Linked DNA regions of Homo sapiens. The protein of the gene in region 1 interacts with the protein of each later gene in a pairwise test. Each region holds a gene or a part of one and is shown in the gene's direction. Other genes may lie near its edges. The genes, in order: FSD2, HDAC4, CAMSAP3, CWF19L2, ZNF35, SPATC1L and PPP1R18.

The links.
Region 2: the proteins of FSD2 (region 1) and HDAC4 interact in binary tests that used the Homo sapiens proteins (3 or more experiments, as listed by UniProt).
Region 3: the proteins of FSD2 (region 1) and CAMSAP3 interact in binary tests that used the Homo sapiens proteins (3 or more experiments, as listed by UniProt).
Region 4: the proteins of FSD2 (region 1) and CWF19L2 interact in binary tests that used the Homo sapiens proteins (3 or more experiments, as listed by UniProt).
Region 5: the proteins of FSD2 (region 1) and ZNF35 interact in binary tests that used the Homo sapiens proteins (3 or more experiments, as listed by UniProt).
Region 6: the proteins of FSD2 (region 1) and SPATC1L interact in binary tests that used the Homo sapiens proteins (3 or more experiments, as listed by UniProt).
Region 7: the proteins of FSD2 (region 1) and PPP1R18 interact in binary tests that used the Homo sapiens proteins (3 or more experiments, as listed by UniProt).

The regions. Positions count from the first base shown.
Region 1 is NC_000015.10:82,754,071-82,757,965, reverse strand, and holds the end of FSD2 (fibronectin type III and SPRY domain-containing protein 2), read left to right. Parts: 3' UTR 1-2,604; downstream 2,605-3,895.
Region 2 is NC_000002.12:239,135,511-239,139,801, reverse strand, and holds part of HDAC4 (histone deacetylase 4), read left to right. Parts: intron 1-5; coding exon 6-118; intron 119-4,291. UniProt on the Homo sapiens protein: Responsible for the deacetylation of lysine residues on the N-terminal part of the core histones (H2A, H2B, H3 and H4).
Region 3 is NC_000019.10:7,605,300-7,609,590, forward strand, and holds part of CAMSAP3 (calmodulin-regulated spectrin-associated protein 3), read left to right. Parts: coding exon 1-180; intron 181-971; coding exon 972-1,094; intron 1,095-1,176; coding exon 1,177-1,272; intron 1,273-1,477; coding exon of another isoform or gene 1,478-1,510; intron 1,511-2,521; coding exon of another isoform or gene 2,522-2,569; intron 2,570-2,826; coding exon 2,827-2,965; intron 2,966-4,291. UniProt on the Homo sapiens protein: Key microtubule-organizing protein that specifically binds the minus-end of non-centrosomal microtubules and regulates their dynamics and organization.
Region 4 is NC_000011.10:107,444,028-107,448,318, reverse strand, and holds part of CWF19L2 (CWF19-like protein 2), read left to right. Parts: intron 1-4,291.
Region 5 is NC_000003.12:44,647,079-44,651,950, forward strand, and holds the start of ZNF35 (zinc finger protein 35), read left to right. Parts: upstream 1-1,653; 5' UTR 1,654-1,756; intron 1,757-3,862; 5' UTR 3,863-3,989; coding exon 3,990-4,181; intron 4,182-4,872. UniProt on the Homo sapiens protein: May be involved in transcriptional regulation. Involved in cell differentiation and/or proliferation.
Region 6 is NC_000021.9:46,177,562-46,181,852, reverse strand, and holds part of SPATC1L (speriolin-like protein), read left to right. Parts: intron 1-4,291.
Region 7 is NC_000006.12:30,683,473-30,688,286, reverse strand, and holds the start of PPP1R18 (phostensin), read left to right. Parts: upstream 1-1,641; 5' UTR 1,642-2,240; coding exon of another isoform or gene 2,241-2,268; coding exon 2,269-3,879; intron 3,880-4,814.

The DNA.
Region 1 (3,895 bases):
GCACTCCAGCCTTGGCAACAAGAGCGCAACTCTGTCTCAAAAACAAACAAACAAACAAACAAAAAACCTCTGATGTTTTCCAGCACCTGCAAAGTCTGACAAACTGAAAGACTCTCATCTCCTACTAAACTCTGCCTACTCGTATAAATGGCAGCTCAGATTCCTGAATTAACAATTCACACTGACAATTTAATAACTCGTTATACACACACACACCTATCCTGCCAAGCTGGACTGTCTACTCTGAAACAAGGGACAGCAGATGTAAGCACAGAAATAGTTCCAGTTATAAACAATTAAAAGATACATATCATGTATATTTAAAAATGTTCTCGGCCGGGCGCGGTGGCTCACGCCTGTAATCCCAGCACTTTGGGGGGCCAAGGTGGATGGATCACAAGGTCAGGAGATCGAGACCATCCTGGCTAATACGGTGAAACCCCGTCTCTACTAAAAATACAAAAAAATTAGCCGGGACTGGTGGCGGGCGCCTGTAGTCCCAGCTACTCGGGAGGCTGAGGCAGGAGAATGGCGTGAACCCGGGAGGTGGAGCTTGCAGTGAGCCGAGATGGCTCACAGATCAAGACTCCATCTCAAAAAAAAAAAAAAAAAAAGTTCTCAGCTACTGAAATAGAAACTACCAAGTAAGAAACAGGATATCACAGAGAAGGCAAGTTTGAATTCAGGGTTCTAATAGGCTTTATGGAATACTACACGTTAGTATGAACACGGATAAATGGATTAAAAACTCAACACGTATAAAGTTTTAATTAAATTTTTATTTGACCAAGAAAAAACTGTCTAGAATTGCCTGACATTTAAAATCCACTTAAAGCAGATTAGCAACTTCAAGCATCACAATTATTCAGCATAAAGAGCCTTTGTTGAAACATCTTTCTCATTTATTTAGAAGAAAACATCTAGAACAGAACCAAGCAAAACTTTTGTATTTTTGTAAAAAATCTCAATTCCTGAAACTACTATAAACAATCTACTGAAACTGTATTCAGCAAGGGACAGATTTACCTCAAGGCCATGTTCACCTGCAACCTGCTGATAAGTCTGTTAAAAAACAAAGCAAAAAAAAGAGTTTTTAAAAATTAGACCACTGTAGCCACAATCCCTAACACTGGACAGTTAAAACAAAAGTTATCAAAATCTGTTCTTTTCTTAGCTTTACCTGTATCACTTTATAACTCCTGAGAAAGTCATTCACATAAGCTGTGGCCTCCCCACCTTAACAAAGGGGAAAAAGAATATGTAAAACCACCACAGAATCTTGGCGTAAACTAACATGGGTTTAGTAATACAGAGTACAGTATTCAGGATTTAAGGCACCCTTACAAGTCAGAATTGGAAAGTTGGTTTGAGACTTGCAATCTAAAATGACACTGATTTCTGATAAAATTAAATGACTTTTATTTAGAAAAGTGTGTTTAATAAATTACTTCCTGCTGGTTCAAATGACACACAATCACTTTGTATACATCCAATAAGATATTTCTGAAGTGTATACTTGGTCAAAAGTAAAAAGCAGAGCAAATGCATGGACAGTGGGGCCTTCTTCTTAATACTTCTCATCCTCCAAAATCTGTTAAAATCATCATCTTCCACAACTCACACACTGGAAGCTGTCCACAGCACAATTCACTGTGATGTGGCATTCTGTAAATAAGACTACATTGGTCTTGATGCAAGGCGGTTCAGCTACCAGACTGCACTATAAGAAAAGTCCTCTCCTCAACTTACCAAGAAAACTTCGCCAATTTCTAGTCACCTTCCTATCAATTAGTAGAGCAAGATTCTCACATGTTCACTATGTCTTTCTCCAGTTTTCTCATCTATAAGTGTACTACTCCTATTTTCTATAGGAAGACAATGGAAAGCGTGTAATTGCTGTTGGTAGATAAGTAGGTCTTGAATTTATTTTGCAAACAAGACCTGTTCTATCTACCTTTTCATTTAGGAGGCTAAAAGCAGAGTCAGCTTGATTTCAAGGACTCTATTTTCTTAGTCTCCAGAAGAACATAACCAAATCCAGCTTTTAAAACACTGTCCTTTAACAAGTCAAGATACTCAAATAAAGATCATGTATAACTTCAAGCTATAGGAGATTAACTCTGTACATATGCTTGTTTCACTGTAACCAATGGTTAATTAATCTAAATGCAAGAGAAAAGTTATTTGGAAAGAAGACCCCAGCTGGTCAGCATCTTTTCTGTCATCAGGAAGTCTCCTGGAAGGAGTATGACTATGACCTGGGCACAACAACTGCCCCTAAGTTAGTACTTATTTTAGAGTTGCTACTGAACAGGTGGTGGTTCTTGTCAAGTATATCATGTCTGACTACTTTACTGCTTGTTTTCTGCTATCACCAGTTCCAGAAAAAAAAAAAAAAAAAATTAAGCCCAACTCACTAATTGATTGCTTTTTCATTTTCCCAGACTGTGACAGAATCATGGTTTTTAGCTCTATTTTCACCTTACTCAAATCCTGGAGGAATTAAACTATCATTTATTTGAAATGTTACAAATTAGCCTGCAGTTGATTCAAACAACATGTAGTCACTCAGACATAGCAAATAAAAATGTTTTGGTATATGAACTTGGATTCTAATCTTGCTGTCTCTACTACTCTCATTCCTAAGTATAAATGTTAGGTCTCTTGCTTGAAAGGAATTTAAGAGATGCCCTTAAATTCAAACAGACTGGCTCGCAGAAAGGAATATAATCCATTCACTGGGAAAGTACACAGCCAACAAAACTGAGATTTCCCAACTATGCACTGTAACAATGCAGAAACACAGTTTTAGAGATGGCTTTACTGGGTATATACATCGCTCTTGGTAGACCCATCTATTATTCTGCCACCCAGAAAGATTCTTACCCTCCTACTTCCTTCCAAACATTCATTTAATTTAAAGGTGACAGGGACAGGGAGAGGGAAGGAAAAAACAAGAAGCACTATCCAAAAGTAAGAACAGTACTCTGGAGAAAGGTAAAAGATACTCAACACTGTTTTTTGTACCATTTACGATTTATAAATCAGCCACAGAGTCCTAGGCACCCAGAATGGACCTCCCCTTCCTTGTCTACCTAATGCCTGTATAGCTCCAAAATCACCTCTTGGAAACACTGCCTTATTCCTCCCCCTCCCAGGAGAGGTTAAGTGCCACACTCACCTCTTTTAGATTACTTCAGTGGCTATACTGCAATCATTGACTTGTGTCTGCTCCACTTGACTATAAGCAAATTGAAGGCAGGGTTTGTGCCTTCATAATCTCTGAATGATCTGAAGATGGAAATAACTGCTTTGTGCTTTCAGGGAGCTCATATACCTGCAAAGAGAAAAGAGACATCAAATTATCTTCCAAAATCAAAGGAAAAGCCTCTTTATTAGAAAGCAAAGCAGCTTTCAAATTTGTGTGTGCTTGGGGAGTAGAAGGAAACATTAAAAATATGAACCTGCTGGGCATGGTGGCTCACACCTGTAATCCCAACATTTTGGGAGGCCAAGACAGGCAGATCACCTGAGGTCAGGAGTTCGAGACCAGCCTAGCCAACATGATGAAACCCCGTCTCTACTAAAAATACAAAAATTAGCCGGGCATGGTGGTGGGCGCATGTAATCCCAGCTACTCAGGAGGCTGAGGCAGGAGAATTGCTTGAACCAGGGAGGCGGAGATTGTAGTGAGCCAAGATCACGCCATAGCACTCCAGCCTGGGCAACAAGAGTGAAAACTCCGTCTCAAAAAAAACAAACAACCCCAAAATATCAACCTTTCTTCTGTCCCAATACACCTTAAAGATCTGATACAGAGTCCCATTACTAATAGTGCTCCATGGTGACTTCTAATCTGGGAAGAGTGGGAGGGGACACAGAACAATCTGGGGAT
Region 2 (4,291 bases), on another chromosome or scaffold:
CGCAGACTCCGCGTGCAGCAGCGCCCCAGGCTCCGGACCCAGCTCACCCAACAACAGCTCCGGGAGCGTCAGCGCGGAGAACGGTATCGCGCCCGCCGTCCCCAGCATCCCGGCGGAGGTCAGTGCGAAGCGTTTGTCCTGTGTCCTACGGCTAGAGTCGGACTCGGGACGGATGAGCTTGAAATGACCCCACTTTGCACTTGCCCTTCACTCTTCACCTTCCAATTTGGGGTGAGGGAAAGTGGCCTGTGAGCCATCCTAAAAAGGACGCAGTTGGAGGTTACTCTCCTGCCTTCCTCTCATCACAGACATCTCCTTTCATTATGAACACGCTAGTTCCAGGCACGTCGGGGACAGCCCTGAGCCTGGTCCTTTCTCCTGACCTCTTCCAGAGCAGATGTCACTAGATGGTGTCCCAGCACAAGCCCACGCATGGCAGGTGCTCTAGGTGGACAGGATCCCTGCTGCCCAGCTCGCTGTGGTCGCCAGTGCTCTGAGGGTGGCTGAGAGGCCGTGGGCACGTGGGTATAGTTGCTAAGTGAGACTTAACATTTTTTATTTTGTATTGAGAAATACACAACACGATGTCGGCCAACAAACTATGTGTCAGGGCCGACTGGAGCGTCACCCGTGGTCAGCATGGCAGGGCCGGCCAAAGCCACAGAGCGGGGAACTTTTCCAGGCATCACGGGAACCAGGCATCTCAGACCGCAGAGCTCAGCACCCCTGGTCCCCTGCCTTCATCAGACCCCAAGTGGTGCCACAGTCTGGGAGGGACATTGGCAAGCTAGAGAGGAGTCAGGGGACGCTTGGAGTCCCTAGGTGGGAAAGATGTCAGAGACGCAGGAGCTGAGTGGCAAGGCAGGGAGGAGTGGCGCCCAGGCTGGCCGAGTCGCACACTGACCATACTCGGAGGCTTTCCAGGGCAGCAGGTCCGAGGACCTCGCTCCGTGTTCCTTGAGCTCCTTTGCGCCCCCTGCCTTTATCCCACACGTGTCCCGAGCGCCTTGTGCCAGGCCCAGGGACAGAACCAGGCAGGCAGCAAGGACCTGCCCCACACTCCACACAATGCCCCACTGACAAGGAGAGGCCACCCCCAGAGCACGGGGAAGAAGAGAGAGGCAGAGAGAGGCAGTCCCGCAGGCTGAGTGGTGCCCTGGGCCTGGGTGGGCCTGACTGCAGGGCAGGGGTGGGAGGGGTACGCTTTAGCAGTGAGTTTTCTGATGAGTTGAGCTGGAAATGCTGTGTCTGCTTCATGGGGCAGAGTTCTACTGAGTGGGAGGTTCTTTCTGAATTCTCTCCAACTTACAGAAGGCTATAATTTATTAAATATAGTTATTGACTTTCCTTCTTAAATATTTAGAAATGAATCCTGCCCTTCCAAAGGATTGGCAAATCTTAGCTGGGATACAGAGGCATGAGTGTTTAGCATTTTCATTTCAAATTTCAAGACCGTTTATGTATAAACATTTTTAGAGACTAGAATTACTGCTCAGAACGAATTTTGCCCTTTGTCTCCAGGCTGCTTAATCCCCAATTTCTCTTACTCTTTCTACTTCATACATCGATTTCTTTTATTACCTGTCTTCTTCAGCCTGCCAACTTCAGTACTTATTTAGATGATTAGAAGTTTTAACAGTCCTCTGTATGGCTGTGGTCATAGCTGAGGTCTACCAGTAATAAGCCTTATAATGCAACCTAGAAATTACTTCCTGCCCTGAGGTTAACACTGGTTGCATCTTGTTGATTGTGGTCCTAGATACATGTTTTTATTTAAAATGAGGCACTTATGTACATGGTAGTTAATATTGGAACAGTGCCTTGTTTGGGTGGGTCTGCATCATTCCAGTTCTGTGTTAATTTTTAGAAATCACGATACGTAAATGAAGCTACTGGAAATTAATAGAACATGTAGAAGGAGTTACAGGAAATACCAAGAGGTGCCATTGTTCATGTTCCACATCAGATGTTCATTAGAGTGGGCACGGGCAGCCTTTGCATGTTGGATCACACCCAGGCGCCCTTTCTGGGTTTCAGTATCTCTAGAGTTGGACGGGTCTGTGAGAACACCTGTGCTTCATGGCCAGGGGCTGGCTCTCCGTTCTCACGTGGTGCAGAGTGTAGTGAGCTTGCCCGTCAGAGGGGGTGTCTCGAGTGGATGAGGATGTGGGGGGAGCAGGGGCCTCCCAGCCTGGCTCTCAGCACTGCCTTTTCTGTTCACCCTGGGGTCCCTAGAAACACTACTGTACCTTGAAGGCCCCCTGGACCCAGGGAAGCCCAGTGTGCCGGGCACCTCCTCCTCTACAGTGCCAGGGAGGCCCAGAGTGCCGGCACCTCCTCCTCTACAGGCCAGGGAAGCCCAGTGTGCCGGCACCTCCTCTACAGGGAGGAGGCAGGGCTCAGAGAGTGAGAGGAAGTCGCCCAGGTGCGTAAGGGGACAGCTCCTCTGTGGCCGCTGCTGCTGTTATTTACACGCGTGCCTGGATGCTCTGACCTCAGGCCCGCGGACTTTCCCTCTGAGCACATGCTGAGATGCGGTCCGGGGGCGCCAGCCTCAGAATGCCTCCCGCAGGGCTCGGCCCCGAGGCAGCAGATGCCAGAACGCCCTGCGATTTCTCAGGTGGACCAGTCGGCATCTCCAAGGAACAAATTCTCAGAAGCCTCCTTTAGTTCCAGAAATGGGCTTAAAAAAAACCTTGCTTACAAAGGAAATGAAAACTTTGCAAACATTAGAACGTCTCCTTATTTTGTTCCCAAATGATAACACAAGCATTTCCTCTACAGCATAACTTACTGATAATTCTTTAACTTTTGACAAAAAAAAAATTGCCTAGGAAAAATGTTTTCCTCAGTAGCCCTTTAATCATTCCTTACACAATGTAATATGTGAGCAAATCTAAAGGGAGTTGCAGGGTTTCCTCTGGGGCGAGGTGCGCCGTGAGTTTGCTCCTAAGTGAGAAGGCCGGGCTTTCTGTTCTGTAGGAACAGCCTGAGTGTAAGTGTTTGTCAGGAGAAGCGTTTCTTCCTATCCCCAATGGCCAGTCATATGTCTTTGGGGAAATGTCTCTTCAGATCCTTGGCCCACTTTTATACTGGCTGCTTCAGGTTTTGCTGGTGAGTTGCTGGAGTTCCCGCATGTTCTGGATACTGCTCCCTTGTCGGATGAATGGCTTGCACATGTTTCCCCTTCCCACAGGTCGTCTCTTCACTCTGGTGATTCTCTTCCTTTGCTGTGCAGAAGCTTTTTAGTTGAGCAGAGTCCCAGTTGCCTGTTTTCGTTTTTGTTGCCTGTGCTTTTGAGGTCTTAGCCATGGATCTTTCACAATAGCCAAGAGGTCGAATCAACCTCAGTGTCCTTCAGTGGATGAATAGACAGAGAAAATGTGGTGCTGTACACAGTGGAATACCATGCAGCCATCAAAAAGGATAGAACCCTGACATTTGCAGCAACATAGATGGAACTAGAGGCCCTCATGTTAAGTGAACTAAGCCAGGCACAGAAAGACAAACATGGCATTTTCTCATTCATCTGGGGGAGCTAAAAACGTTGCTGTCATGGAGGTAGAGAGTATAATGAAATCTGTTATCTATTCATTATTAACGTTAGCTTCTGGCAAGGGGATTTCTATCTGCCAAACCCCACTAACTAGCATGATTACAACAACATTTTATTCCTTCTCTTTGTTTGCCCATTCATTCAGCAGACATTCCTTGAGTAGCTACTGTGTAGGGGATATAGTGGTGATAAACTATTGTCCTTTTTAGCAAAACACGTTCATTCTACAAGCAAAAAGATGTTAAATATCACAGTAGTTCAAGTCCTTGGAGACTGTTGCTGCTGACTCTTCCTGTGTGGCCTTCTAATCTTTACTCCTGGCTTGTGTTTGCTTTATCCAAGCCCATTCTTTAAAAGGTACATGATCTATAACCTGTTTTTCTAACTTAATGTATCATAAACAAGTGTCCAAGTAATCAGCTAGATCGTTCCCAACCCCCAGAGCATCCCGGTGTGCAATGCCCCTCCGTTCTGTTAACACCAAGGTGTCGGGGAAGCCGCATAGCTCTGCCATGCCTGCTGGGTGCTCGGCCCTGCAGCGGAGGCTTCATGGGCATCAGGCCATCTCCTTATTTCTTAACGTTACATCCCAAGAGTGGAGCTCCAGCATCAAAGGTTAGACAGATTTTGAAGGCCTTTGACATAGATTGCCAAATTGTCCTGCAGAAAGGGTGCCACTAACTGATTTGTGATTCACCCAACAGTGTTCGCCGTTCCTCTAGGCCAAGATGGTAT
Region 3 (4,291 bases), on another chromosome or scaffold:
ACACGGCTGCTGCTCTCAGCCGAGCTCTACTGCAGAGCCTGGCGCCAGGCACTGCCACAGCTTGAAACACCCCCCAACCCCTCTGCACTGCTGGCCCTGCTGGCGCGGAGGGGCACAGTGCCTGCTTTGCCCGAGCGCCCGGTGCGCGAGGCCGACCTGAGGCACCAGCCCATTCTCATGGTAGGCCCCGCCACTGCCTGTTAGACCACGCCTACCATGCTCAGCTCCTCCCCTCAAGCTCCTCCCGCCAGTCCTGGCTCCTCCCAAGTTCCCTCTATCAGTCTTGGCTCCTTTCAAGCTTTGTCGATTAAGCCTAGCTCCTCCCATCAGGCTTGGCTCCTCCCCCAGGTTCCTCCCACCAGGCCTGGCTCCTCCCCTCAAGCGCTATTAAGCCTAGTTCCTCCCACGAGGTCTGGCTCCTCCCCTCAAGCGCTATCCATTAAGCCTAGCTCCTATCAGTCTTGGCTCCTTCCCTTAAGCTATGTCCATCAAACCTAGCTCCTCCTATCATCAGTCTTGGCTCTGTCCCTTAAGCTCTGTCCATCAAACCTAGCTCCTCCCACCAGTCCAGGCTCCTCCCCTCAAGCTCTGTTCATTAAGCCTAGCTCTTCCCCCCAGCCCTGGCTCCTCCCCTCAAGCTCTTCCCATCAAGCCTGGCCCCTCCCATCAAACCCAGCTCCCCAAAAAGGCGCTACTCTGGCCCTTGAGGATTTGTGTACACAGCCCACCCTATCCTAACGCCTAGCATCTGACCTCAAAGTCCCACCCATCGTGCGTGGCTTTTCCGGGACCCCATTTCTTGTTCCTTCCCTTAAGGCCCCACCCATGAACCACTGGCCCCGCCCCCTCAAGCCCCACCCCCCCCGTCAAGTCCCTCCCATCTGCAGGTTCTTCCTTTTCCCAGGCCCTTGGGGGCCGAGGTGCGCCTCCTGCAGCTCTCAGGTCTCACCCTCTAGCGCTTGCCCCCACAGGGAGCCCACCTAGCTGTCATTGATGCCCTCATGGCTGCCTTTGCCTTCGAGTGGACAAAGACCCTGCCAGGTCCCTTGGCCCTGACCAGCTTGGAGCACAAGCTGCTTTTCTGGGTGGACACGGTAGGTGGGGTTGGGCCTGGGGTGGGTTCGGGGACCAGCATCGTCCAGTGGCCAGACCACTGACCCCCTCCCTGCCCTCCAGACCGTCCGGCGGCTGCAGGAGAAGACCGAGCAGGAAGCGGCCCAGCGAGCCTCTCCAGCAGCCCCTGCAGACGGGGCGGCCCCGGCGCAGCCCTCGGTGAGGCCAGGGCATAGAACCGTCAGAAGGATGGGGGACCGGAGATCTGGGAGGGCAGGGCTGTGCTTCCTGGACACTCCTGAAGTGGGGAGGGGGCTAGAGGTGACACACTCTCTCTTTCTTCCCCCCTCTCTCAATCTCTCTGTGCCCTGCCCGTCCCCTGTGCCGGTACCCGCTGCCCTCCTCTCTGCCTCTCTGGCCTCAGTGCCCTACGCGCTGGTACTGGAAGCTGGTTCCTGTAAGTGGGGCTGTCTGTCCGCCCCGTCTGCCTGCCCTGCTTGTAGCTCTGTCTGTCTGTATGTCTGTTTCTGCCTGCCTGTCTGCGCGCCCTCTCATACCTCCCCAAGCTGTGAGCAAAGGAGGTTGGACCCCAGTCCTGGGAGACAGGGAGAACCCCTCTGTGAACCAAGAGAAGGGTAGAATCTCGGCCATTAACTGAGAGGGCAGACCCCTCCCCCAGCGAACTGATGGGTGGGGACGAACTTCCCCTCCCGTTATTCAGAAGGGCAAGCCCTCCCCGTTCCCATTAATGAAGAGGGTGGGACCCCCTGAACCTGTCCCCCTTAGCCGAGGTGGGGAGACCACATAAATTTCTGAAGGGGGGACCTGCAGCCCATCACAAACGTGGATCCTGACCCTAGCAGGCAGGGCACCCTCTGGCCAAGGGGAAGACCCTCCAATGCAGAAGAAGATAGAATAACTTTCCTAACTGAGACCCCCAGCTTCCCTAGAGAAAAATCCCAGCTTTGAAAAGGAGGAGGAGGCCCATCCCTGAAGCTGGAAGTTGAAATTTCTCTCTTCCCTGAATGAGCTGTGTGACCTTGCAGAAGTATCTAAACCTCTCTGTGCTTCATATAAATTACTCCCATAGTAGATAAACAAGGAGGAAGTGGGGGAGGTTTTGGGCTGGCTGGCGTCCCCACCTTTGCTCACTCCTTCCCCCACCCTGGGGCCTGGGTTGGGAGGTTCCCTTCCTGCCTACCCGCTTCCTCTGCATCCTCTCCCCAAGCTGGGGGCCTGGGTCTTTTGTGGGAGGAGGATTCCCCGCATAAGAGGGGGTTCCTACTCTGTGGGGTCCCTTGGGGCTGGGAGGAGCTGGGGTTCGCGAAGCCGGCCAGAGCAGTCAGGGAGCTGGACGGCCGGGGCTCAGGACCAGGGTCAGGGCTACCCCCTCCCCCCCAAGGTGGGCTTGGGGGCCCAGCAGGTCAGCACCCCTCCCCCTTGCTGATGGCTGCTCCTCTCCCCCCAGCACGCAATTGCCTTCTGTTTGAAGGAGTCGGGGAGCAAACCCCCCATGGTAATGTATCCCCCGCCCCGGGGTCCCAGGAGTCCCTGTCCCCAGCCCCCGCTGCTGGCCTGGCTGCTCGAAGACATCTCCTCTGCCTCTTGCTGCTGCCCCTCCCCTGCTCCAGGCTGGCCCCCCAACTCTGTCTCTGGGACCCCCAGCTTCCCGCCCCCTCATGGCGGAAACCCCAGGCCTCCCTGCCCAGCCTGCATGACCGCTGACCCTGGGGGCCAGCCTGGCCACTCACCTGACCTGGCTCCCATCTGCAGATCCGATACCGCAAGGACCGTGTGGTGGCGCGACGTGCCCCCTGCTTCCCGACGGTGACCAGCCTCCAGGACCTGGCCAGTGGGGCCGCGCTGGCCGCCACCATCCACTGCTATTGTCCCCAGCTGCTTCGACTTGAGGGTGAGTAAATGGATGTGGAACAGATCTTGTGCCGGGGAGCTGGGCATCCTAAGTCCCAGCCCCTAGACCCTCCATCCCCAGGTCCGCGAGACCAGCAACGATGCAGTGGTCATGAGGGCAGCTTCCGGAACTGGCAGGCCTGAGTTTGTGTCTCTCTCTTCCCCAATGAGCTTTGTGACCTCACACAAGTATATAAACCTCTCTGTGCTTCCAGGAGTTCATTCCTGCAGCAGATGAAACGTATGGAGTGTGGACTGTGTGCCAGACCTTGTTTTAGGCACTGGGGATCCAGCCAGAATAGAGACACACTCCCCACTTCACAGACGGCTCTAGCTGGGAGAGAAAGATACTAAGTTTATCCAAAAGTACTTTTTTTTTTTTTTTTTTGAGACGGGAGTCTTGCTCTGTTGCCCAGGCTGGAGTGTAATGGCATGATCTCGGCTCACTGCAACCTCCACCTCCCAGGTTCAAGCCATTCTCCTGCCTCAGCCTCCTGAGTAGCTGGGACTACAGCCACACGCCACCACGCCTGGCTAATTTTTGTATTTTTAGTAGAGACGGGTTTCACCGTGTTGGCCAGGCTGGTGTCGAATTCCTGACCTCAAGTGATCTGCCTACCTTGGCCTCCCTAAGTGCTGGGATTGCAAGTGTGAACCACTGCACCCGGCCCAGAAGTACTTTTTGCATACTGGGTAGTCCTAAAGGCAATGGGTGGTCAGAAAAAGCTTTTTTTAAAAAAACTCTTTTTTCTTTTTTATTAAAAAAAAAATTATAGGGCTGGGTGTGGTGGCTCACGCCTGTAATCCCAGCAGTTTGGGAGGCCGAGGCGGGTGGATCACGAGGTCACGAGTTCAAGACCAGCCTGGCCAGGATGGTGAAACCGTCTCTACTAAAAATACAGAAATTAGCCGGGTGCGGTGGCGGGCGCCTGTAATCCCAGCTACACAGGAGGCTGAGGCAGGAGAATCGCTTGAACCCAGGAAGTGGAGGTTGCAGTGAGTCAAGACCATGCCATTGCACTCTAGCCTGGGCAACAGAGCGAGACTCCATCTCAAAAAAAAAAAAAAAAAAGTATAAAATAGAGATGGGGTCTTGCTATGTTGCCCAAGCTGGTCTTGAATCCCTGGGCTCAAACATCCTCCCACCTCAGCCTCCCCAAGTGCTAAGATTACAGGTGTGAGCCACCACACCTGGCCCGGAAAAGCTTTTTGAGCTGAGGTCTTGGGGGAGAGTGTTCTAGAAAGATGCAAAGGCCTAAGGCAATAGTCACCAACTTTTTGGCTCCAGGGACCGGTTTTGTGGAAGACAATTTTTCCACAGATGGAG
Region 4 (4,291 bases), on another chromosome or scaffold:
GGCGGGAGTGCAGTGGCGTGATCTCAGCTCACTGCAACCTCCGCCTCCTGGGTTGAAGTGATTCTCGTCCCTCAGCCTCCTGAGTAGTTGGGATTACAGGTGCTCATCACCACGTCCAGCTAATTGTTTGTATTTTTAGTGGAGATGGGGTTTCACCATGTTGGCCAGGATGGTCTGGATCTCCTGACCTCGTGATCTGCCTGCCTCAGCCTCCCAAAGTGCTGGGATTACAGGTGTGAGCCACTGCGCCTGGCCGACTGGCCTTTTCTTTTGCTGTGTCTAGCTTACTGTTATCCCTATCCAGTGACATTTTCATTTCAGGTACTGTATTTTTTTTTTATCATTAGATGTTTCGTTTGGATCTTTCTAATGTTTTTCAGTTTATCTCCTCATTATCTTTACATTTTCCCTTCCTTGAACATATTTATGATAGCTGTGTTAAAGTCTTGGTTTGCTGTTTCATTTTCTCTTGTTTTTTCCTGTTCTGTTTCAATTAAATGATTTTTCTCTTGAATATGGGTCACATTTGCTTGCTTCTTTGAATGTCTAGTAACTTTTAATTGGATGCTGAACCCTATGAAACTTATATTGTGACTGCTGGATTTTGTTGACTTCTTCAGAGAGTATTGAGTTTCCTTTTGGCATACAGTTAATTACTTGTGAATTAGCTTAATCCTTTTCAAGGATTGTTTTTAAGTTTTGTTCGTATGCACCTAGAATAGCTTTACTCTAGGACTGGTTTAGCCTTTCTACTAAGGCATGACCTTTGTGGGTTCTCTGCTGATTGTCATGGATGTTCAGCGAGGTTTCTTTATTCTGGTTGGGAGGAACTAGAATGTCTTCCAGCCCTTTGTGAGCTCTGGGGATTGTTCTGCTTACAGCTCTTTGGTAATTGTTTTCTCCATGGTAATTTTTCTTTGCCTGACCTTGTGGACTCTCATCCTCAGCATGTTCAGCTTGGTCTTTCTTTAAAGACTCCAGGGGTCCTTTAAGTAGATTTCTGGCACCCTTTCTCTGTGTAACTTCCCATCTGTACTTTTGTTTCAGCCTTCACAAAGTTCAAATTCCGTTTCCTTTGCTCAGTGAGATTTTCATGTTCTGCTTGGGTTACCCCTCTATGCCACAGTCTAGAAAGTGCCTTTAGATAAAAAGCTGTAGAGATTGTAGTTTCATTTTTATTCCAATTTGTATGTATTTCTAGTTTGATGCCATTTATTTTGTCAAGGACAGAAGCAGAAGTCCTCAAGATCCCTTGAGTTTTGCTGGTAGCACTTTTCTGTCTTAGTTCCACCTTCTAGGTTTTGACCACTAGATAGAATTAGAGGTGTGGTTAATTCTGCAGGCTGCACAAGAGAAGGAGAGCCCTGAAGGCTGTGTTAGGTCAGGAGGCGTATTAAGCTTGATAGTTAATGAGTTCAAGGTAAAATGGAGATTGAAACTAAAATTAGCAAGAGAACTGAAGTCGTAGCATGGGGAGCATCAATTTTGCTGAAGTGGTAAGGTGAGTGAGTGCATAATTGTGAAAATGAGTATAGGTTGCTGCTTAAAAGTTTCTGACTAGTGCTATTGAAAGAGTAGAAAAAGACATTTCATTTAATTTCAGCTTGCATTTATCAAATGCTTATTCTTTGCCAGACACTGTTCTAGACATGGGGAATATAAAAATATATTTTTAAACCTTTGGGGAACTCATTTCCTAATTGGATAAATAGATACATAATATTAATAATATGATTTTGTAGTAGATTTTGTAGAAGAAGATGTTGGCTTTATTTTCTGTTGTTACTGAGTTTAGCATACCATCCAACATGATGCCATGGTAGTACAGGGTATTAAGAGGGATTTCATTTGCTAACTTGTTGATTAAATGATGCTTGAATTGAGACTAGATAGATTAGTAAGCATTAGGCAAATAAAGGTGTGCTTGGCATTTCATGCATAAGGAATTGCGAGAGCAGAGACATGGAAGTATGAGATAATATGAGTGTGAGTATGTGTGTATGTATGTAAATATAACTATAAGCAATTTGATAGTACTAAATTATAAAACAAGAGGAGGGGGTGAATGGAGATGAAACTGTAAGAATTAATAGGGCCTTGTAAACCAAGAGCTTTGACTTTATTCAGTAGGGAATGTATCATCTAATTGGGTTCAGCTGCATTTATTAGAAAATCTCAGAATAGCCATTGATTATACAAGATAGAAATTCATTTTTTTCTGATATGAAATAAGTCAGGTAGACAGTCTAGGGCTAGTATGGTCTTCTGGGACCTAGGCTTCTATTGTCTTGCTTTTCCATCATCCTTACAGCATTGCCTCTTAGTCCAGATAACAGGAAAGAAGATGCTCTTTTTTTTCTTAACTTGACTTCCAGAAAGTCCCATAAAATACTTTTGTTTACATCTAATTGGACACTTGATCATAAGGCTTCACTTTCTAGCATGGGAAGTACATTACTTCTCCAAATAAAATGGGATTCTGTTGGTAGGAAAGAAGAGGGATAACTAGCAGTCTTTGTAATGGGAAGCCCTAGAAGAGAAGTACGGTGGTCAGATGTTCCCTTTATATTACTCTAAATGTATTTGGGGTGAGGGGTTGGAGAAAGAAGGGGAGCAGGAAAGATGAGTCCAGGAGATTAATTAGGTCTCCTGGAATCAGTTGTTTAGGTGAGAGATAAGATCTGATCTAGGGCTACTACTTTTTTTTTTTTTTTAAGGCGGAGTTTTGCTCTTGTCCCCCAGGCTGGAGTGCAATGGCACGATCTTGGCTCACCACAACCCCCGCCTCCCGGGTTCAAGATACTCTCCTTCCTCAGCCTCTCAAGTAGGTGGGAGTACAGGCATGCGCCACCACATCTGGCTAATTTTTGTATTTTTAGTAGAGATGGGGTTTCACCATCTTGGCCAGGCTGGTCTCGAACTCCTGACCTCATGATCCACCCGCCTCGGCCTCCCAAAGTGTTGGGATTACAGGCGTGAGCCACCGCGCCCAGCCTGGGGTGCTACTTTAAGGATCAAAGAAGAGAATATTAGTTGGTATTTTGGTTGCAGGTAACAGAAACTAAATATAAATTGGATTTTGCAAAAAGGATTTATTATTAAAGTACAAAATTCTCATAAGACATATAGATGTAGGAATGCAGCTAGGCTTCAAGAATAGCTGGAATTAGAATTGTGAATGGTTTTTGCAATTTTCTTGCCATTTTTCATTTCCCCTACCCTGAGTTCTAGTTTTTAAAAAATTTTTGCTGATTTCTATTTCTCATGACAGAAATGGCCTCTCCCAATGCCTTCCCATTTCTTAGTTTTAGATAAGCCCATTTAGACCTGATTTCAGATTCCTGTGGAATGGCTCAGGTTGATGTGAATTGGGTCAGGTACCTACGTTTGAACTAATCAGTAGTGGCCAGGGATAGAGGTAGGCTCGTATGGTAATCATGTATTCACTCTATGGTATATTTAATAAATATTTTAAAAATGAAAATGGTAGGCTTGAATATGTGAGGTAACATCATCCTGAGTTTCTGACTTGGTTTAAGTGGGTGGTTGGTTGTTCCAGATAACTCAGTTCAATACTATACAAGGAGAAGTAGATTTTGTAGAAGAAGAGGATAGCTTTATCTTCTGTTCTTACTGAGTTTAGCATGCCATCCAACTGCAGTAGACAATTAGTCAGTGAAACTTTGGTTAGACAAATTTGAAAGATATCAGCACAATTTATTGTAGTTCAGGCGATCAGAATGGATTTAATGGCCCAAAGGGAATGTTTAGACATTGAAAAATGTCATGGGCAAAGAATGGAATCCCAAATAACAAGATATTTAAGGGCTAAGCAAAGGAGGAAGAGTTCATGAAGGAAATGGAGAAGAAACAGAGTGGGAGGAGAGCTGAGAGGTGTCATGGAAGCCAGGAAAGTGAGTTATCAACAGAGTTGCATTAAGCAGAGAGGTCTAGAGAGCTGAAGACTGAAACGTTTTGTTGAGTTCGGCACAGTGGAAGCCACTGGTGAGTTTGGAGAAGTTTCAGTAGATTAATGGGGACAGTAGATGTATTGTAGAGTTTTGAGAAAATGTATGAAAGTGAGAGTGTGAAGGCGGTGCATGTAGACTACTCTTTCAAGAAGTTCATCTGAGAATGGAAGCCGGAAGATTAATTCCTGCTAGAGGAGGAATATACGGGGTCAAGGAAGGTCCCCCTTCCCTCCTTAAAAAAAAAAAAAAAAGGGTGGGAAATGCTTGAAATTGTTTCTAGGCCATTAGGGATCTTTGGTTAATGCCGTGAGAGGAGAAGA
Region 5 (4,872 bases), on another chromosome or scaffold:
ATATCCAACAAGGGATTTGTATGTAAACTACATAAAGAACTTTCCAAATTTAACAGTAATAAGTAAATACAATTAGAAAATAAGCAAAAGACAGACATTTCACTGAAGTATAGATAGCAAATAAGCAAATGAAAAGATGTTCAACATCATTAGGCATGAGGGAAATGCAGAGTAAAATCGTGAGATATCACCTATCAGAATAGCTTAACTTTTTTTTTTTAATGGTGGTAACTGCTGGCAAGGATGAAGAGAAACAGGATCTCATACATTGCTGGGAATGTAAAATGGTACAGCCACTCTGGAATATAATTTGGCAGTTTCTTGTAAAACCACACATGTATATGTCATGCTTCAGGAATTGCACTTCTGAGCATTTATCCCAGAGAAATGAAAACTTGCGTTCACACAAAAACCTGTATACGAATGTTCATAGCAGCTTTATTTGTAATGGTCGAAACCTGTAGGCAACCCATATATCCTTCCTTAGGTGGTTAAAACAAATTGTGGTTTATGTATTACCATGGAATACTTGTTACTCTGCAATAAAATTGACTTATTGATATCCATAACAACTCAAATAAATTTCAAGGGAATTAATGCTGAGTGAAAATAATCACAAAAGGCCATATTCTGTATGAAAATATTCATATAACATTCTCAAAATGATAAAACTATAGAGATGAAAAATGGATTAATGGTTGCCAAAGGTTAGGGATGGTGGGAGGAAAAATGGGGAGAGGGTTGGATGGAACTATTAAAAGGTAGCACCAGAAAGGTCTTTGTGGTGATGGAACACTTGTGTATCTTGATTGCAGTGGTGGTTACACAAATCTATAGGTGCTATACCTATACACACATACTGTACCAATGTTGATTTCCTTTTTCATTTTATGTAAGATGTAACCATGAGGGGAAAGTGGGTGAAGGGTGCTATCTTTGCAACTTCCTGTGATTCTATCATTTCAAAATAAAAAGTAAAAACCAACAATGGCAACGAAAACCCAAAACTAAAGAGCTGTAACCAACTAAAGTGTGTGAAACTGATTTGAAAAAAAGTTATAAAATACATGTTTTAGGACAGTTGGGAAATTTGAATATGACTGGTTATTAGATGGTATTAGGGAATTTTTGTTGATTTTCTTACCTGTGACGGTGGTGGTAGTTTGAAGAATATTCTTAATCTTAAGGGATGCATGTTGAAGTATTTGGAATGAAGTGTTCTGATGTTTACAACTTTCAAAAAAATGATTTTAAATATGTATTGAGAGATCAGGCAAACATAGCAAAATGTTCATTGTTGAGTCCACATGGAAAATACGGGTATTCAATGTGCCATACTTTCAACTCTTCTGTACTCTGATATTTTCAAAATAAAACATTTGAGGGGAAATTATCAGGGCTTTCTACAGATTAATGCTGTGTAGCTTCAGGCTCTTGGGTGCGCGCCTCGCCTGAGTGTCTCATCCCTGCTTGGGATGCGCCCCTCCCTGAGGCTCACTTAGAGCTTCCAACAGCACAATCCTCCTAAGCGCTTCTGCCCCATCCCTGGTCTGGGGCGACATTGGACACCCATCGAGAGGAAAGCACCTCCGAGGTTCCTAGAGAGGCCGGCTTGGCGACTTGGGGAGCCGGAAGCCCATCCCGAGGCACTTCCTGTCCGGTCATTGTTCTCGTGCCGGTAGAAGCTGAAGTACCGGTCAGCCAGCCTCCTGCTGCAGAGCCAGTGAACTCAGGTCGGGCTTCTCAGCTGCGCACAGTGAGTGGGGTCGGAGGGGGTGGGCACGAACGTCGAGGGAGAAAAAGGGGCTCTCCCAGGGGCCATGGCCCTAGGAGCGGCCCCTGCGTCCTTTCCCCGGGGACACCAGCCTTGTCTGTCGGGGTGCGGGGGGCAGTGAGTTCCCCACCGCCTCGGAATCCCGGCTGCTGCCCACCTGGGGCCTGGTCCGGGAGAGGATGCACACGGACCGGCCAAGGGGCCAGATAGGTCCCAGGGACAGGGCCGCGAGGAGCCTATACGTGGAAAGAATGGATTGCCACGTTTGGAAATAGAGAAAGGACGTTGAAAGGGAGCCTTTGATAGAGGGCCCTGTGCCGTCTGGGACCGGAGGTCCGTCAGAATCTGATCAGAAGTCTGATGAGAGTACTCACTGTAGGCAGTCTTATACACAAGGTGGAACTAGTCTTAAGGACCTTCATACCAGATTGAATTCGGATAGTGATGGAAAGAATAGTCCTCCAGAATTAAGGTTTGTCACAGGAATGAAAGTATTGCATTACTTAATAAATTCAGTGTATACAGTAAGTGGCCAGTAAGTTGACATGGGGAAAAGAGTATGATCACTTCAATAGCAGCAACAGGGGATTGAATAAGATTTCGCACCCTTTTCCAATAAAACATTCAAAGGGGGTTAGAAAGAAAAATTTCAATCTCTTCATAAGCAATCAAACTAGTAAGGTTATTTTGCTCACAGGTTAAAAACAAAAACCCTGCTGGCTTAGCTGTGATAAAGGGTTACTGTCAATTAGTGGGGGTGTGAATTGGCATGGTGCTTTTGGAAAGCAATTTGACAGTACATATCAACCAGCAAATCCTTGAACCAGTAATTCTCTGATTATTCTAAAGGAATAATTCAGCAAAAAAAAAATATTTACAAAGAAAAACTTTTAAATATTAATAAAATGGAAATATAAACTTTTACTAAATAAATGGTTCATAAATAGAATATGATTAAGTAAATGATAATATAGCCACAATTTAGAATACTATGCCAGAATGAGGTAGTTCTATATGTGTTGTATTGAAAGATTGTTAAGACTATTGTGAAATACGGAAATTGAGTTAAAAAACAATGCAGGTTGCTGAACAGTATATAACTGTGATGATCTAAAGTATGTTTTTGAAAAATAAGCAATATGTGTGAAGGTGAACATATAAGTATGTAAATGCAGAGAAAATGGGTTAGGACTCCCATCTAAACTGATAAGTACTTTGTGTGTGTGTGTGTGTGTGTGTGTAGTGTGTGTAGGTTATATATTTAATTCTATATATTTCTGTATTACTTGATCCTTTTTCAATGAGAGTGAAGATTTATCAACACCATAGGTTATTGTGTAGCATTTAAAATAAGCATGAAGAATGGCAACATGAAAGTAATCTTTTTTTAAATCTTAAGTGTAATATTTTATCTCACAGGACATTTGGAAGCTATGGAAAATGTAAAAATCAAACAAAAAAAATGAAAAGAACCTTAAAACTACCTGTAATTACACCATCCAGAGTTAACTACCCACTGCTAACACGTTGGTATAAAGACTCCCAGTCTTTTTCTTGGGATCCTTTTGTTCACATTATTTTGTATCCTTGGCAATAAAAAATCTTTTTGTTGTAAAATCCTTTTTTAAAAAATGCTATGATGATAATTGTGAAAATATGTATCCCCAAAGTCAAAAACAAGAATTTGTAAAATCATAATTATTAGTAGTATGGTTGGAGATTTTCCTTTGAAAGAAATATCTTAAATCTTAAAATGTATAGTGGTTATCTCTTTGGAGGTAGACCGAGATGATTTTTCTTAATCATTTGCTGCTTTTAAGTTTTTACAATAAAAGTAAGTTAACTTTTAATCAGGAAAAAATCAATAAACATTATATAAAGCTGTTTGCAATGTGGTTATTATGGGAAGATATTACATATTTATAGTCCAACCCCTTCATCCTATGAGGGAGGAATAGAGGATTCCATGTCCTACATTGGCCCCTGGCCAGGCGCTGGTGAAATTTGCCGGTGTGGCATCCGGCAAATTTGCTAAGTGGCATCCAGCAAATCTCTCCTTGGTGCTAACAGTGTTTTCTGATTTCTCAGTAGGCAGTACTCATCTTGGCCCTGGGAAGAAACTCAAGAAGAAGCTTTTGAAACATAAAGCTTGGATGGGGTTTGACCTCTGCAGGGCAGCGCCCAGCTATAGGAGTTCCCCTGCTGAGCAGAGAAGATGACTGCAGAATTGAGAGAAGCCATGGCCCTAGCCCCATGGGGCCCAGTGAAGGTGAAAAAGGAGGAGGAAGAAGAAGAAAACTTCCCAGGTCAGGCATCCAGCCAACAAGTGCACTCCGAGAACATCAAAGTCTGGGCCCCAGTGCAGGGTCTTCAGACAGGCCTTGATGGATCAGAAGAGGAAGAAAAGGTAAACGGGGGCCTGAGAGGAAGAGGGGAGGAGATACTTGAAGACCTCAAGTAGTTTAAGAGGGGACTCTGCCCCTCTGCTTCCACACCTGGAGTCTTATTTCTTGGGTACAATTCTAGCTTCCAGTCTTTTGTAATAGGATAGAAACATTCCCTTCTGATTGATGTGACATTCAGTACTTTCTGTAAACCAGTGGTTCTCAAATTTTGCTACACAGAACCTGGAGAGCTTTTTATAAAATCTTGATGTCCATACTGTATTCTATTCCTATTAAATCAGAATCCGTGGTCCAGGCACAGTGGCTCACACCTGTAATCCCAGCACTTTGGAGGCCAAGGCGGGAGGATCACTTGAGGTCAGGAGTTCAAGACCAGCCTGAGCAACATTGCACACCTCGTGTTTTGCAATGCCGAAATACAAAAAATTAGCTTGGCATGGTGGCACGTGCCTGTAGTCTCAGCTACTTGGGAGGCTGAGGTGGGAGGATTGATTGAGCCTTGGAGGCATAGGTTGCAGTGAGCCGAATTCATGCCACTGCACTCTAGCCTGGGCAATAGAGTGAGACCCTGCCTCAAAAAAAAAAAAAAAAGAATCTAAGGGTGGGACCTGGGTATCCATGTTTTTTTAAAACTCTTCAGGTAATTTCAGTCAGGTTTTGACAATGCTAACCAGAGCTTCTAAAACTTTAATG
Region 6 (4,291 bases), on another chromosome or scaffold:
TGGGCAGAGGACAGAGTCCCTGACCCAGCACTGCCTGGGATTCCCACGGCCAACCTCAGCTTCCCACCGGGCCGGGCCCGGAAAGGACGTGGTCAGCCTGCCTGGTCCTGGACGATGGAGCAGGCAGCCTCGCCAGTGCCCGTGAACACTGCTGTCTGCGAGCACGAGCCATGCCCGGGAGGCCAGCTCTGCCACTCACCAAGGGGCCGCTCCAGCACCTGTGCTGGGGGTGGGGGAGGTTGCTTCCTGAGTCCTTCTCAAACGCTGGCCACCACCCTCAGATGTGCACTCTGAGCAGGCGCAGTGTGCAGGAGGCACTCTCCGCAGCCAGGCCCCAGGCCCTGCTCGGAGCTCCATGGACAAGCCTGAGAGCGAGCGTGTCTGGAAGCAAAGAGGGGAATCCATGGCATCGTCCCCACACCTTTGGTCTCTGGTGACAGGCAGGGGCTCCTCGCAGGGAGCTGGGAGGAGAGCACCTCGCCAGGATGTGCGGGGACAGTGTGGCTGGGGAACCTGGCGCCTGGGGGCCATGCTGTGCGAGGCCCCAGGTTCTGCGTCTCCATCAGCGGCCACTGAGCCCCACGCTCACCACAGGGCGTTTGCTGGGCAGACCTGCGCTTACGGTGCTGGGCCACGTGCAGGGTCCCGTTCACAGCACTTGTGAGGCCCGGGCACTGTGGCTGCAAAAGGGCCCTTAATCTGTTTGGCGTGTGTGGACCGCCGCAGGCTGCGTGCCCCGGGCTGCGTTGCTGTCCTCCTCCTCAAGAAGGAATCACCCTGGGCCGGACCTCAGGGCTGGACAGAGTGCTGGTGCCTCCCCTGGCAGGAGAGGGGCAGACCCTCAACCCTTGCCCAGGCTGTGCAGTCCCCAGAGGGACCCTTGTCAGGGGCTGAGTCCGGGCGGGGTCTCCATGACCACGGCTGCTGCCCCTGCCCTTGGGTCATCTTGGCAAACCCAGGTCTTGCTGGACACGGGTCTTGGGAGGAGCCTCAACCTGAGGCCAGCAGGCCTTCCACAGAGGGCCTTGGAGCCCCCGCCACAGGGTGTGGGGCAGGCTCAGTGTGGCCCGGGCTGGCAGCGGGGAGGGGCCTGGACAAGACCACCCTCTAAACTCTGCCACTTGAGTGGCAGCGTGTGGTGCACCCTTAATGCTCTGGGCCTCAGCATGTGCTTGGGAATGTACCTGGGGCTGTGGGACGCTGCATTCAGGACCAGCCCTCAGCAGAACTGGGGTTGGGAAGACCAGCACTGAGCTTCTGCAAAAAAGGAGAAGTTTATAAACAAAGGAACCACCACCAGCAATGTCTGCATGTTGCCAAGACTTCATTAGCATCTGTGTTCAAAACAGGATGAGTAAAAACCTGCTTTTCTTACGGATTCAACAACACGTGCTCATGGTAAACTTATAAACGCCATGGAGGGTGCAACGTTTAAGCCTCAGGCCACGCCTCCGGCCCCCTCCGCAAAGGCAGCCACAATCAACGTTCTCTTGGGTTTTCTCTGGAACTTTAGTGGAGATCTGTGTGTCTGTCTGTGTATCTTTTTGGTCCACCTACACGGGATTGTGCTGTTCCGCAACTTGACTTTTCCCCCTTAACGATCCATTTCGCGGCATTCCCCACCAGTCCTTATCTGCAGATCTCCCCGGCACACTTGAACACTGGGCTCCTTCTGTGGGGGCCCCAGGCAGGCAGCACTGTTCCCAGTTCTCTGCGACCGTGGACGCCGCCGCCGTGGGTGGCCTGCGCAGGCGCCCTGTGGCTTTGTGTAGGGGATCCCACACCTGGGTCCTCGGGTCAAAGGCTGTGTGCATTTGAAATGTTGAAACAGACACTGTCAAACGCTCTCTGAACGGTCCCTACACCCCACTGATGGAGGAGGAGGGCACTGCGCCGGCATCGTTCCCACGTCACAGGAGGGCTCATCTGTCCCCGTCAGCTGGGGAGCGAGGTCTCCAGGTCTTCTCACCCAGGTTTACAAGTGAGTGACGCGAAGGGCCAGTGGGAGCAGCAGTCCTCTGCCTCCCCTCCCAGCTGCCCCATCTCGTCTCCCTCGGGATTGTCCTGGTCCCTCCAGCACGGCCACGATGCCACTCGCCGTGTCTCCACTGGAGAGGTGTCCCCTGGAGGACAGCCAGGCCCCCCCAGATTGCCCACTCGCTCCCTAGTTGTTGGTGGTGGATTGTCAGATGATTTCCAACAGTGGTGAGAATTCTCTATGTGCAACTCCTGGTCACTCCTTCCGTCTGACATGACAGAAGATTGTCCCTGTGTTGTTAGGTGTACTTTAAAATGGCCCTGCAATATTGCCGATTCGGATGAACCACAATGTAATGAATTCTCCCTCAGTTTGAAATTAAAGTTTTTCTTCCCCTTGAGGTAAATAGCACCACAAAAAAGGTTTTAAGAATTTTTATATTTAAGGTTATTTCCATTGGATTTCTTTTTTTGGTGTGTGTGTGATTTTTTTTACTTTTATGGAGATGGGATCTTCTATGTTGCTGGTCTTGAACTCCTGGGCTTAAGGGATCCTTCTGTCTCGACCTCCTAAAATGCTGGGATTACAGGTGTGAGCCACCGTGCCTGGCCCATTATGTTTTTTTCTTTTTCAGACAGGGTCTATGTTCCCCAGGCTGGAGTGCAGTGGCAATGATCATGACTCACTGCAGCCTCGACCTCTGGGGCTCAAGCAATCCTCCTACCTCAGCCTCCTGAGTAGCTTGGACTACAGTGCTTGCCACCATGAGCGGCTAGTTAAAAATTTTTTTTTTTTTTTTGTAGAGACAGGGTCTCCCTATGTTGCCCAGGCCAGTCCCAAACTCCTGGGCTCAAGCAATTCTCCCACCTTGGCCTCCCAAACCATTGGGATTACAGGCTTGAGCCACTGTCCAGCTGGATTTATTTTTAAAAAATAGAATCATTGATTCAGAAGGCAGGAGTAAATGGTTTTTTGTTTGTTTGTTTTTGAGACACAGTCTGGCTCTGTTGCCCAGGCTGGAGTGCAGTGGTGTCATCTTGGTTCACTGCAACCTCTGCCTCCTGGGTTCAAGCGATTCTCCTGCCTTGCCCTCCCCAGTAGCTGGAATTAAAGGCACACACCACCATGCCTGGCTACTTTTTGTATTTTTAGTAGAGATGGGGTTTTGCCATGTTGGCTAGGCTGATCTTGGACTCCTGATCTCAGGTGATCCACCCACCTCGGCCTCCCAAAGTGCTGGGATTACAGGCATGAACCACTGCACCTGGCCATGTATTTCTTTTTTAAAAAACTTTTAAGTTCAGGGGTACAAGTGCAGGCTTATTACATAGGTGAACTTGTGTCATGGGAGTTTGTTGTACAGATTATTTTGTCACTCAAGTATTAAGCCTAGTACATTCGTTATTATTCCTGATCCTCTCCCTTCTCTCACCCTTCACCATCTGGTAGGTCTCAGTGTCTGTTGTTCCCCTCTATGTGTCCACGTGTTCTCGTTGTTTAGCTCCCACTTATAAGTAAGAGCATGTGGCATTTGGTTTTCTGTTCCTGCATTAGTTTGCTGAGGACAATAGCCTCCAGCTCCATCCATGTTCATGCAAAGGATATGATCTCATTCTGGTTTTTTTTTTTTTTTTTTTTTTTTGAGATGGAGTTTCACTCTTGTTGCCCAGGCTGGAGTGCAATGGCACGATCTCGGCTCGCTGCAACCTCCGCTTCCCGATTTCAAGCAATTCTCCTGCCTCAGCCTCCCAAGTAGCTGGGATTACAGGCATGCACCACCATGCCCAGCTAATTTTGTATTTTTAGTAGAGATGGTTTTCACCATGTTGGTCAGGCTGGTCTCGAACTCCTGACCTCAGGTAATCCACCTGCCTTGGCCTCCCAAAGTACTGGGATTACAGGCATGAGCCACTGCTCCCGGCTGATCTCTTTCTTTTTTATGGCTGCATAATATTCCATGGTGTCTATGTACAACATTTTCTTTATCCAATCTACCACTGATGGGCATTTAAGTTGATTCCGTGTCTTTGCTATTGTGAATAGTCTGCAGTGAACATATGCGTGCATGTGTCTCTATAATAAAATGATTTATATTCCTTTGGGTACCATTAATGGAACCCAACCAGTAATGGAATTGCTGGGTTGAATGGTATTTCTGTTTTTAGGTCTTCGAGGAATCGCCACACTGTCTTCCACAATGGCTGAACTAATTTATGCTCCCACTAACAGTGTATAGGCGTTCTTTTTCTCTGCAACGTTGCCAGCATCTGTTGTTTTTTGACTTGTTAATTATAGCCATTCTGACTGGTGTGA
Region 7 (4,814 bases), on another chromosome or scaffold:
TCCACTCCAAGAAGGTGGACCAGGGTCTGCAAGTTCAACGGTCATAGCTGTCCCTCCAGGCCCCAACCTTGCCTCACCACTCCCGGCCCTAGTCTCTGCACCTCCTTAGGCCCTGCCTCTGGGCTCAGACCCCAACCTAGTCAAGGGGATTCTCCTGCTCTTAACTCGATGACTTGGGGCTCCCTGCTCTCCCGAGGAAGATGCTCTGCAGGAAAATAAAAGTCAGCCTTTTTCTACATATGGCATGCAGTCTGTCAGTGTCTCCCAAGCTACAGGGCTGAGTTTGGGAAAGAAAGCCAGAGGGAGCCTGGGAGCACCGAACTGGAGTCTGGGCAGCCACCACGCCCTCTGGCAACCGCTGGGGTTCGGCCACCCCCGCAGACCCGCCCCCACTTTGCCAGAGCGGCCGGGTCCCCATTCCCATTCCTTCAAATCCCCTTTTTCCCGGCAGCCGACCTGTAGACCCAAGGGAGACAGGTTGAAGCTAGAAAGAGTCGGGGCAGCAGCTCTGGTAGGGGAGGGAGCATCCAAAACCTCTGGCTTCTGAGCGCCTCTCCTGCCGCCCATCCACAAAGCCCCCCACAGCCTGGCGGCTGCCCTCGACCCCGCAAAACAAAGGACTTCAGAGGCTGGACCTACAGACCCAGATGAGAAGGCAAAAGCGTAGGGAGGAGCGGCAGGAGATGGGAAGGGCGGGCCCCGCTCGGAGCAGCTGCCGCTTCCTCCCAAAGTCCCACGAGGGGCCTGAGTCACGGGCCACCGCCCTGGGTCGGCGAGCTGGGGGAAGGGATCTGGACACCTGGCGTGTCCGGGCGGGAAGCTGGTGAGGGCCCCTGGGGACAGAGCGGAGGACCAGTGGTTGGGGCGAGAAGAGGGCAGTCCCGCAGCGAGTCCCACGCGGGGTGGGAGGGATCTAGGCCCCGCCCTCTCCTCGGCTCCGCCCTGCGCCCCCTTCCCTCTCCTCATTGTCCTTAGACAAAGCGGTCGCCGCCCCCGCCCGGCCCCCTGGTCTCTGTCTCCGTCCCTCCTCCTTTGCTGCCTCTTTCCCTCCTCCTCTCCCTCCCTCCTCCCCTCCCTCCAGTCTCCGGATCTCCCTCGGTCCCTCTCTCCTCCTCTTCCTCTCTCTGGACGCCCGGCTCCTCCGCACCCCCTCCCCCGGGGGTCCCGCGGCCTGTGAGTTGACTGAGGGGCTCAGACTTGGGGAGTGGGTGTCTCCTCGCCCCTGTCCTTGCTCCCGTCCCTGGCCCGGACCTTGGCTGTCTCCTCTTTGTGCCGAGATTGTCAGTCTGTGCGGCTACAGCGGGGTGGAGACGGCCGGCTCTGTCACGGCTTCATGAGAGCGGGGACGGGGCGCAGGACTTGCAGGCGCCGGGGAGAAGAGACATGGAGCCGGCCCTTGGCACTCTGGGGTCGCGTGGGGCAGTCGGTGGGGGAGGCAGGCGGTGGTGACAGGACAGGGTGGGGGTGGACGCCAGGGTTCTGGGAACGCGCTGGCAGCCCTGACGCCCGGGTTCCGAAAGTCTCGGGGGTGGCTATTTCCCCCGACCCGCCTCGGGGGCGGAGTGCGGGGCAGAGGGGTGGGGGCTGGGGAGAGGCGTGGCCCGAGCGGTGCTGGAAGCGGAGCCGGGACCTTTGGGGCCCGCGCTGAGACGCGCCCGGCTGCTGCCGCCGCCCTCCTTTCCCCTCTTCCCTGGTTTCCCTTCTCCTCTAGACCTGTTCGCTCTCCGCCCCTCCTTGCCTCCCCAACACCCCCTCAGGTCCCGTTGCCTCCTGGTCCTTTCAGGGATTCCTGGTCCTTCCTTCCCACACTAGCCTCCCTGGGGTATCGCTGAGGCAGCCTGGCCTGCACCCAGGTTCCCCTCACCCCTGCCACATTTCTCTCTTCTCCCTCACGCCAACTTTCCTTTTCGCCCTTCTCTCTCTTTCTCACATCCTAGAGACGGTCTTTAATACGCATTAACCCTGTGCTGCCACATCTGGCTCCTGCCCTCATTGCCTCCAATCCGGACTCTTCCTCTCACATCACCCCCACCACCCCCAACTTGGGCTCACAACTTCTCTTCACTTTTTCCATTTCCCCAGTTCTCTGCCTTCCGTCTTTCCCTCTGTCCTCATCCTTAGCCCCTCTGCCCTGCTTTGTGTCCCACCTCTCCCCCTCCACTTCCTCTCCTCCCACCCTCAGTCTCACCCCCGGGCTGTCTCACTCTCTGGAGCCTCTCCTTCCTGTTCTCTGTCCCCAGTGCTCCCTACCCTCACCTCAAGACGACCATGGCCACCATCCCAGACTGGAAGCTACAGCTGCTAGCCCGGCGCCGGCAGGAGGAGGCGTCCGTTCGAGGCCGAGAGAAAGCAGAACGGGAGCGCCTGTCCCAGATGCCAGCCTGGAAACGAGGGCTCCTGGAGCGCCGCCGGGCCAAGCTTGGGCTGTCCCCTGGGGAGCCTAGCCCTGTGCTAGGGACTGTAGAGGCTGGACCTCCAGACCCGGATGAGTCTGCGGTCCTTCTGGAGGCCATCGGGCCAGTGCACCAGAACCGATTCATCCGGCAGGAGCGGCAGCAGCAGCAGCAGCAACAACAACGGAGTGAAGAGCTGCTAGCAGAGAGAAAGCCTGGGCCTCTGGAGGCCCGGGAGCGGAGACCCAGCCCTGGGGAGATGCGGGATCAGAGCCCCAAGGGAAGAGAGTCAAGAGAAGAGAGACTAAGTCCGAGGGAGACCAGAGAGAGGAGGCTGGGGATAGGGGGAGCCCAAGAGTTGAGCCTGAGGCCTCTGGAGGCTCGGGACTGGAGGCAAAGCCCAGGAGAGGTGGGAGACAGGAGCTCCCGACTGTCAGAGGCATGGAAATGGAGGCTGAGTCCTGGAGAAACTCCAGAGCGGAGTCTGAGACTAGCAGAGTCTCGAGAGCAAAGCCCCAGGAGAAAAGAGGTGGAAAGTAGACTGAGCCCAGGGGAATCTGCCTACCAGAAGTTGGGCCTGACAGAGGCCCATAAATGGAGACCTGACTCCAGAGAGTCTCAGGAACAGAGTTTGGTACAACTGGAGGCAACAGAGTGGAGGCTGAGGTCAGGAGAAGAAAGACAAGACTACTCGGAAGAATGTGGGAGAAAAGAAGAGTGGCCAGTTCCAGGGGTAGCTCCAAAAGAGACTGCAGAGCTGTCCGAGACCCTGACAAGGGAGGCCCAAGGCAACAGTTCCGCAGGAGTGGAGGCAGCAGAGCAGAGGCCTGTGGAAGATGGCGAGAGGGGCATGAAGCCAACAGAAGGGTGGAAATGGACCCTGAACTCCGGGAAGGCTCGAGAATGGACACCCAGGGACATAGAGGCTCAAACTCAGAAACCAGAACCTCCAGAGTCAGCAGAGAAGCTTCTGGAATCTCCCGGTGTGGAGGCTGGAGAAGGGGAGGCTGAGAAGGAGGAGGCGGGGGCTCAGGGCAGGCCTCTGAGAGCCCTGCAGAACTGCTGCTCTGTGCCCTCCCCCCTCCCACCAGAGGACGCTGGGACTGGAGGCCTGAGACAGCAGGAAGAGGAAGCAGTGGAGCTCCAGCCCCCACCACCAGCCCCTCTGTCTCCCCCACCCCCAGCCCCAACTGCCCCCCAACCTCCTGGGGATCCCCTCATGAGCCGCCTGTTCTATGGGGTGAAGGCAGGGCCAGGGGTGGGGGCCCCCCGCCGCAGTGGACACACCTTCACCGTCAACCCCCGGCGGTCTGTGCCCCCTGCGACCCCAGCCACCCCAACCTCTCCAGCCACAGTTGATGCTGCAGTCCCGGGGGCTGGGAAGAAGCGGTACCCAACTGCCGAGGAGATCTTGGTTCTGGGGGGCTACCTCCGTCTCAGCCGCAGCTGCCTTGCCAAGGGGTCCCCCGAAAGACACCACAAACAGGTAGGGAAGCAGCCAAGCCAGACTTCTTAGAAGTCCACTTGTCAATTTTCTCTGGACTCTGGTCTCTTTCTTTTTTATACCCCTGTTTTCTTGTCTTCCTCTATTCTTTCTTGTTAATTCCTGCCACCACCCTTCCTCGCTCTGCACATACACCCTTCCTTCTCAGAGCCCTCCTTTTCCATTTTGAGCCCAAAAGATCCTGCCCCAGCAAAGGCTGTCTCTGGGTGTGTCTCTTTCAGGGTGTGCCAGGCTGCTCATTCTCCCTTCCCTTGGGCTCTGAGTTTCCAACCCCCTTTTCTTTCCTTCCTTTCCTGAGTGTGACCTGCCCCAGCCCATCCAGTGGGAGAGCCTAAAGTGACGAGCTTGAATCAGTGAGGGCAGGGTCACCAGGGTGAGAGCACTTGCAGTTTTTCTGGGGAGAAGGGATAGGGAGCCTGGGGTGGTGGAGGGGGTGGGGTGGGTTTGTGTTCTAGGGAGAAACTGCAGGGAGAAGTGAATGGAGAAAGGTCCAACTGCCCCGTGGGAAGGAGGGCAGAGCTGAATAGGGACATCCTAGGATGGAGGGGAGAGGGGAGATGGAACCGGGCCGGCCAAAGATCAGAGAGAAGGCTTTTGAACCCCGAGTCTGCCCCATGGGAGAGACACAGAGAGGCCATTTGAAGTGGGTGACCTCGGGGTTGCACACCCCCAGCTGGGCCACTGCTTCAGACAGTGCTCCCTTCTCTCTTGGGACAAGAAAAGCCTTCTCCTCTTCCAAAATACCCCCGCCCCTCACTCCCCTGTCCTTCCTCCCTGGGTTTCCCCTCCCTCCCAAGAACTGGCTCAGGGATCGGTTTTCCCCTCTTTTCCTGCCATCCTGGACTTTCCCTCCCCTTAGGGTAGCAAAAGAGAGAAGTGAATTTGGAGACAGTTTTGAGAACAGGCACTGGCCAGGG